2 separate regions of the Homo sapiens genome follow, and region 2 is linked to region 1. Evidence: fine-mapped expression QTL. A gene starts in region 1. The other region holds a variant in brackets. All regions are shown on one strand. Distances are from middle to middle.

Region 1 (2,917 bases):
CAAATCCTAGTGTCCACCACTTTCTGTGCTCTAGTCCCACTAGCTGCTCTTGGCCCTGCCACTCCTGGCTCCCCGGCCTTAGTGAGTTTGGGAAACATCCCTCCAGTTCAACCTTGGCACCTTCCCTTGGACACACATTAGGTATTATTTCTCCTTCAGCTGAAGGCTTTGTAGCTATTGAAAGGCAAGGCATCTCTTGATGTGAGCCTTGAAGGACAGGTTGCTTTGGGTAGGCAGAGAGAAGCTGGTAAGGCGTATATTGTCTAAGGGTCTGGAGGTGGGGTATAAGGGGTATACAAGTCATAGAGTTGGGGATAGGCAGAACCCAGAGAGGGGAGAAAACTGGCCTGAGATAGAAGACCTTGCAAGGGAGAAGGAGGGTAGGAGCCTGGATGGTGTGAAATGCTAGAGGTGCATGGCTGGAATGGAGGGGGTGGGGCACCAGGCTTCAGATGCTTCTGGGTGCAGATGCAGATTTTCAGGATGTACAACATGGAGCATCCCCAAGGCAACTGTGTTGAGAGCCTGCGAGGCAGGTGAATGTGGATCTTCTACCCCCTCTCCTGACTGAGTTCACCAAGGAACAAGCTTTGTAAACTATTTGAGGGTAGGGGCTGTGATTATTTACTCTCATATCCTCAGAGCCTGGTGTTGAGGTTGGTGCTTTGTAGGCACCCAGGGACTTTCAAATGAATGAAGGGAGGGAGGGAGGAAAGAAGGATGGGTCCATAGTAGGACCTGGTGATGGGCTGGGAGCTCCAGGCAAATGTCAACCAATCCCTCTCCTGGGTCAGCTCCCAGGGGCTCACCCTTCTTTGCATTTCCAGCTCTCATGAGGTCATTGTGCACAGGAAAGCTCTCTCCTCTAATCTCCTCTGATCCTACTGCACCAGAGAAATCAAGCCAGAATTCAATAAAGTCTCAGTCCAGATAAACAAGACAAAAGAAATAAGATTCGAGTAGAAGATCTCCTTCAAGGGAAAGTTGCTGTGTTTGTCCAAGACCTTTGTCCCATCCATGTATCATCCCCCAAGTAAACACTTCTTGTTCACCTGTTCATTAGATTTCAAGTGCAGTCCCTGGCCTGTAAGTCCCTACAATGATAAGCTTCTCTTATCATTGCACATTCTTCATCAGGAGGATGCCAGAGGAGCTCAGCCAACAGTTCCTCATCAGTAGCAGATTCTTCAGAATCTTGGGCACTACACAGATGCCCTTGAGCTCTTTGAATAAAGGCTGATTTTTAGAAAAAACATTAAGACAGAACTTAAAAACAATAGATTGACTATAATCCAAAGACGAGTGTACCTCTAACCACAATTTTCATTTATTTTTAAATGTTTCCTTCATGGCCTTTCTTGTGGCTCACCCTATGCAGTTTGTGTATTTGTTGACAACTTTATGTGTTTTTAATATGGTTTTTGCCAAACTTGGTTTTTCCGAGACCGTCTTTTCTCAGAGGCTCAGTTTTACCGTCCTATCTGCAGTCGGCTACTTTCAGTGGCAGAAGAGGCCACATCTGCTTCCTGTAGGCCCTCTGGGCAGAAGCATGCGCTGGTGTCTCCTCCTGATCTGGGCCCAGGGGCTGAGGCAGGCTCCCCTCGCCTCAGGTAAGGCCTGAAACCCAGCAGAGCAGCAGGGAGGAAAAACAAGGCTAAGCTTGGTTGGAGACTTGGGTGCTTGTGTAGGGAAGACTCCAAGAGCATGCCACAGCTGCTTGAGAGAAAGAAATTGCAACTTTTAGAGTCCTGTGTACTCTTATTTAAGAAAGGACAATCTCTGAGAATGAGGTGGGGTTCTGTTTTTGGTGGCAGATGAAGGACTTTGCAGACTTCCGGGGTTGGAGGAGCCTGACTGGCCAGCACAAGAAGGAGCAGGAGAAGAAGAAGGGCTGGGCAGGAGGCATTGCCAGTTTGCTTTTAGAAGCTCATTCCTGCTCCAGCTTCTTTTCTGTTGCCTTTCAGGAACTTTCCAGGAAAACATTATAAGTTCTCTGTGAATTGAAAATGTCTTTTTCACAGATTCCAGAGGTTCTACCACTAGAGACTGATTTTTTGTTAAATTTATTTCTTCTATATTAAAAATCAGAGTCAAATATTTCTGAGGGAGGGGAACACAAATATTTAAAAACTGTGGTATAAATTAGTTTTTATGTTGCCTTCTGAACTATCTGAGGATGGAGATGTGCCCAGGGTTGCTGGGGAGAGGTTAAGTGCTGAGAGGGTGGTTATGCCTGGGAGAAGCAGGGTTTCCTGCTAAGCTTCCTTTGCTATTGGATTTCTTGGCTTTCCTGAAGGTTTTTTCAGGCACTGCAAATGACAATCAACCAAACAGCAAGGTTTTATTTCAAAGGATAATGCATCCAGCATAGAACTAGGCCGCAGGAAGAAACATAAAAACAAAACAAAATAAAAACAGAAGAGGTGGTATCAGCTGACAAGGGCTTATATTCTAAGTGGGTAGACAAAATAGGCCTACGAAAATAACAAGCTGGCCATGAAGCTACATAGCAGAATATGCGAGGGGGCAACGTGCTAAGTTGTGTAGTCATAAGCCAGGCATTTAGTAAGGTGCTAATTATACAATACAGGCAGTGAATGTGAAAGGAAAAGGGAGGTTGAGATGGGCTGAGGTCTTCTAGGAGGCGGGGAGGGAGTGCAGCCTTGACAAGCCTCCCTGTGGGCGAGGTGTAAAGAGGGGCAGAAGTCAGCTCTGGAAGCATAGGGCAGTGGGTGGGGAGGAGATGGGCTGGGCTGGGCTGGAGTAGAGATGTGTGGAGAAGGGTGAGAAGACTGGAAAGACAACCTGAATGGGGGACTGGGAGCCTTGAATAACAGGCATGGAGAGGAGCGTCTCTTGAAATGGAAGAAACAGGAAATAATTACAGCCTCTATGGAGGAGCAACAGGATGGACTGG
Region 2 (2,917 bases), 110 kb before region 1:
ATCAGATTTGTACCAAATCACTCATTATAGGTAGCAGAGTAATAGTAAGGAAGGAAATAAATAAATGATAGTGGTTTTTTATATCTGCATCTACCCTTCTGTGTGCTTGCATGTTACCTCCCTTTTCTACTTCTATCTTAACTTTTCGACCTATTTTCTTCCTGTTTTTTACTACCCTCCATCATCATCTAATTTTTTCTTTTTTTCTTTTTCTGTTTTTTGAGACAGAGTCTCCGTCTGTCACCCAGGCTGCAGTGCAGTGGTGCAATCTCGGCTCCCTGCAACCTCAGCCTACCAGGTTTAAGCGATTCTCTAAGTACCTCATATAAGTGGAATCCTACTATATTTGTCTTTTTCAGACTGGCTTATTTCACTTAGCATAATGTTCTCAAAATTCATTGATATTGAAGTATATGTCAGAATTTTCTTTCTTTTCAAGGCTGAATAATATTCAATTGTACCACATTTTGCTTTTCTGTTCATCTATGGATGACACTTAAATTACTTTCACATTTTAGCTATTGTGCATGACACTGCTATGAACATAGGTGTTCAGATATCTTTTTGAGATCCTGTTTTCAGCTCTTTTAGATATATATCCAGAAATGGAATTGCTGGTTCATGTGGTAATTCTGTTTCTAATTTTTTGAGGTACTACCATACTGTTTTCCACAGCAGCTGTATCATTTTACATTCCCATCAATAGTGCATGAGTGTTCCAATATCTTCACATCCTCAAGAGCATTATGCCTCCATTGTAATTTATTCTTTGATCCACTGATTCTTTAAAAGTGTGTTGTTTAATTTCTACAAATATGTGAGTTTTCCAGTTTTACTCTGTTATTGATTTCTAATTTCCTCCCATTATGATCAGGGAAGACTTTGTATGACATTTGTCTTTTAAAATCTATTGAGACACAATTTGTGGCCTAACATATGGCCCATCCTGGAAAATGTCCCATGTGTACTTGAAAAGAATGTGCATATCATTGTTGTTGGGTAGAGTGTTCTGTATATGTCTTTTAGGTCTAGTGGGTTTATTGTGTTGTTTATATCCTCTATTTTCTTACTTATTTTCTGTCTGGTGGTTCTATCTGTGATTGAAGGTGGAATGTTAAAGTTTCCAACTATTAATGTAGAATTGTATATTTTTCTCTTTAATTCTACCAGTTTTTGCTTCATGTATTTTGATCGTCTGTTATGAGGCATGTTAATGTTTAAAATTGCTCTATTTTCTTGTTGTATTAAATATTTTATTAATATATAATACCCTTTTTTATTTCATAATTTTTTGACTTAAATTCATTTTTGTCTGATATTTGTCTAGCCATTCCTGCTCTCTTTTGGTTACTATTTGCATGAATATCCTTTTCCATCTTTTCACTTTCAACCTATTGTATCTTTGTTTTCTTTTTCTCTTTTTTATTATTTTTGTGTGTGTCTTTGGATCTAAAGTTAGTTTCTTGTAGACAGTATATCCAGCAATCATGTGT[T/G]TTTTATCCATTCTGCTGATCTCTGTTTTTTGATTGGGTAGTTTAATCCATTTACATTTAAAGAAATTACTGATAAAGAAGGACTTACTTCTGTTGTTTGCTATTTGTTTTCTATATGCCTTATAGCTTTCCCACATCTCACTCTGCATGACTCTTTTTTGTGTGTGTTTAGTTGATGTTTTGTGGTGAAATGTTTAATCTCCTTTCTTATTTCCTTTTGTTTATATTCCTTAACTATTTCTTTTTGGTTGCAGTGGAGATTACATTTAACATCCTAAAGTTATAATACTCTAACTGGAGTTTATACCAGTCTAACTTCAATAACATAAAATATCTGGTCCTCTACTATTCTTTCTTCACTCTTTTTGGTTGTTAATGTCATAAAATTATACCTTTATATATTGTGTAACACCAAACATAAACTAATAATTATTTTAAATGCGTTAGTCTCTTAAATTATATAAAAAACAAAACATGGAGCCACAAACCAAAGTTACAATAATGTTAGCTTTTAGACTAATGATTGTTTTCTTTTAAATGTATTAGTCTCTTAAATTATGTAGATAGCAAAATACTACTAGCTTTTATAAAGGTCCTTGCATTTATTGAGCTCTTTGTTTCTTCATACAGCTTCAAGTTACTGTCTAATGTCCTTTCATTTCACCTTGTAGGACTCCCTTGAATATTTCTTGCAGGGAAAGTCTAGTGGTAATGTGGTAATGCTCCTCAGCTTTTGTTTATCTGGCAATGTCTTATGTTCTCCTTCTTTTCCTGCTTCAGTCCCCCAAGTAGCTGGGACTACAGGTGCATGTCACCATATCTGGCTAATTTTTTGCATTTTTAGTAAAGACAGGGTATTGCCATGTTGGCCAGGCTGGTCTCGAACTCCTGAATTCAAGTGATCTGCCCACCCTGGCCTCCCAAAATGTTGGGATTATATGTGTGAGTCACTGCAACTGACCTCCTTCACTTTTGAAGGACAATTGTTCTGATATAAAATTCTTGGTTGACAGGTATTTTTTTCTTTTAGCATTTTGAATACGTTGTCCCACTACCTGATGGGCCAAAGTTTCTCATGAGAAATTTGTTAATATTCTTACCAAAGAGCCCTTGCATATGATGAATCAGTTCTTTTTTTGCGCTTTCATAATTCACTGTCCTTATATTTCAGAAGTTTGATTATAGTGAGTCTTGGTGTGGGTTCATCTTGAAGTTCATTGTGCTTCTTGGATGTTTATGTCTTTCATCAGATTTAGAAACTTTTCTGCCATTATTTCTTCAAATATTCTCCTTACCCTTTATCTAGCCCTTCTCTTTCTGGTGCTGTCACAGTGTGTTAGTTGGTTCACTTGATGGTGTCTCCTATGTCTTTTAGGCTCTGTTCACTTTTCTTCAATCGTTTTTCTTTTTGTTCCTCAGACTGA

What was found. PIP is the estimated chance that this variant, and not a neighbour inherited with it, causes the effect. A credible set is the group of variants that fine-mapping cannot tell apart.
Region 2: its variant is the best candidate, but not a certain one, in a credible set for the expression of TIGIT in whole blood (INTERVAL, PIP 0.81).

The regions. Positions count from the first base shown.
Region 1 is chr3:114,292,513-114,295,429 of GRCh38, forward strand. TIGIT (T cell immunoreceptor with Ig and ITIM domains) reads left to right here and starts at 1,516. Exons shown (of 4, transcript NM_173799.4): 1 at 1,516-1,610. The coding sequence starts at 1,550.
Region 2 is chr3:114,182,409-114,185,325 of GRCh38, forward strand. It overlaps a transcript of DRD3 not described here. Among named protein-coding and RNA genes, the nearest start is that of DRD3, 4.8 kb to the left of the region's middle. The variant T/G (reference allele first, on the strand shown) is at 1,494.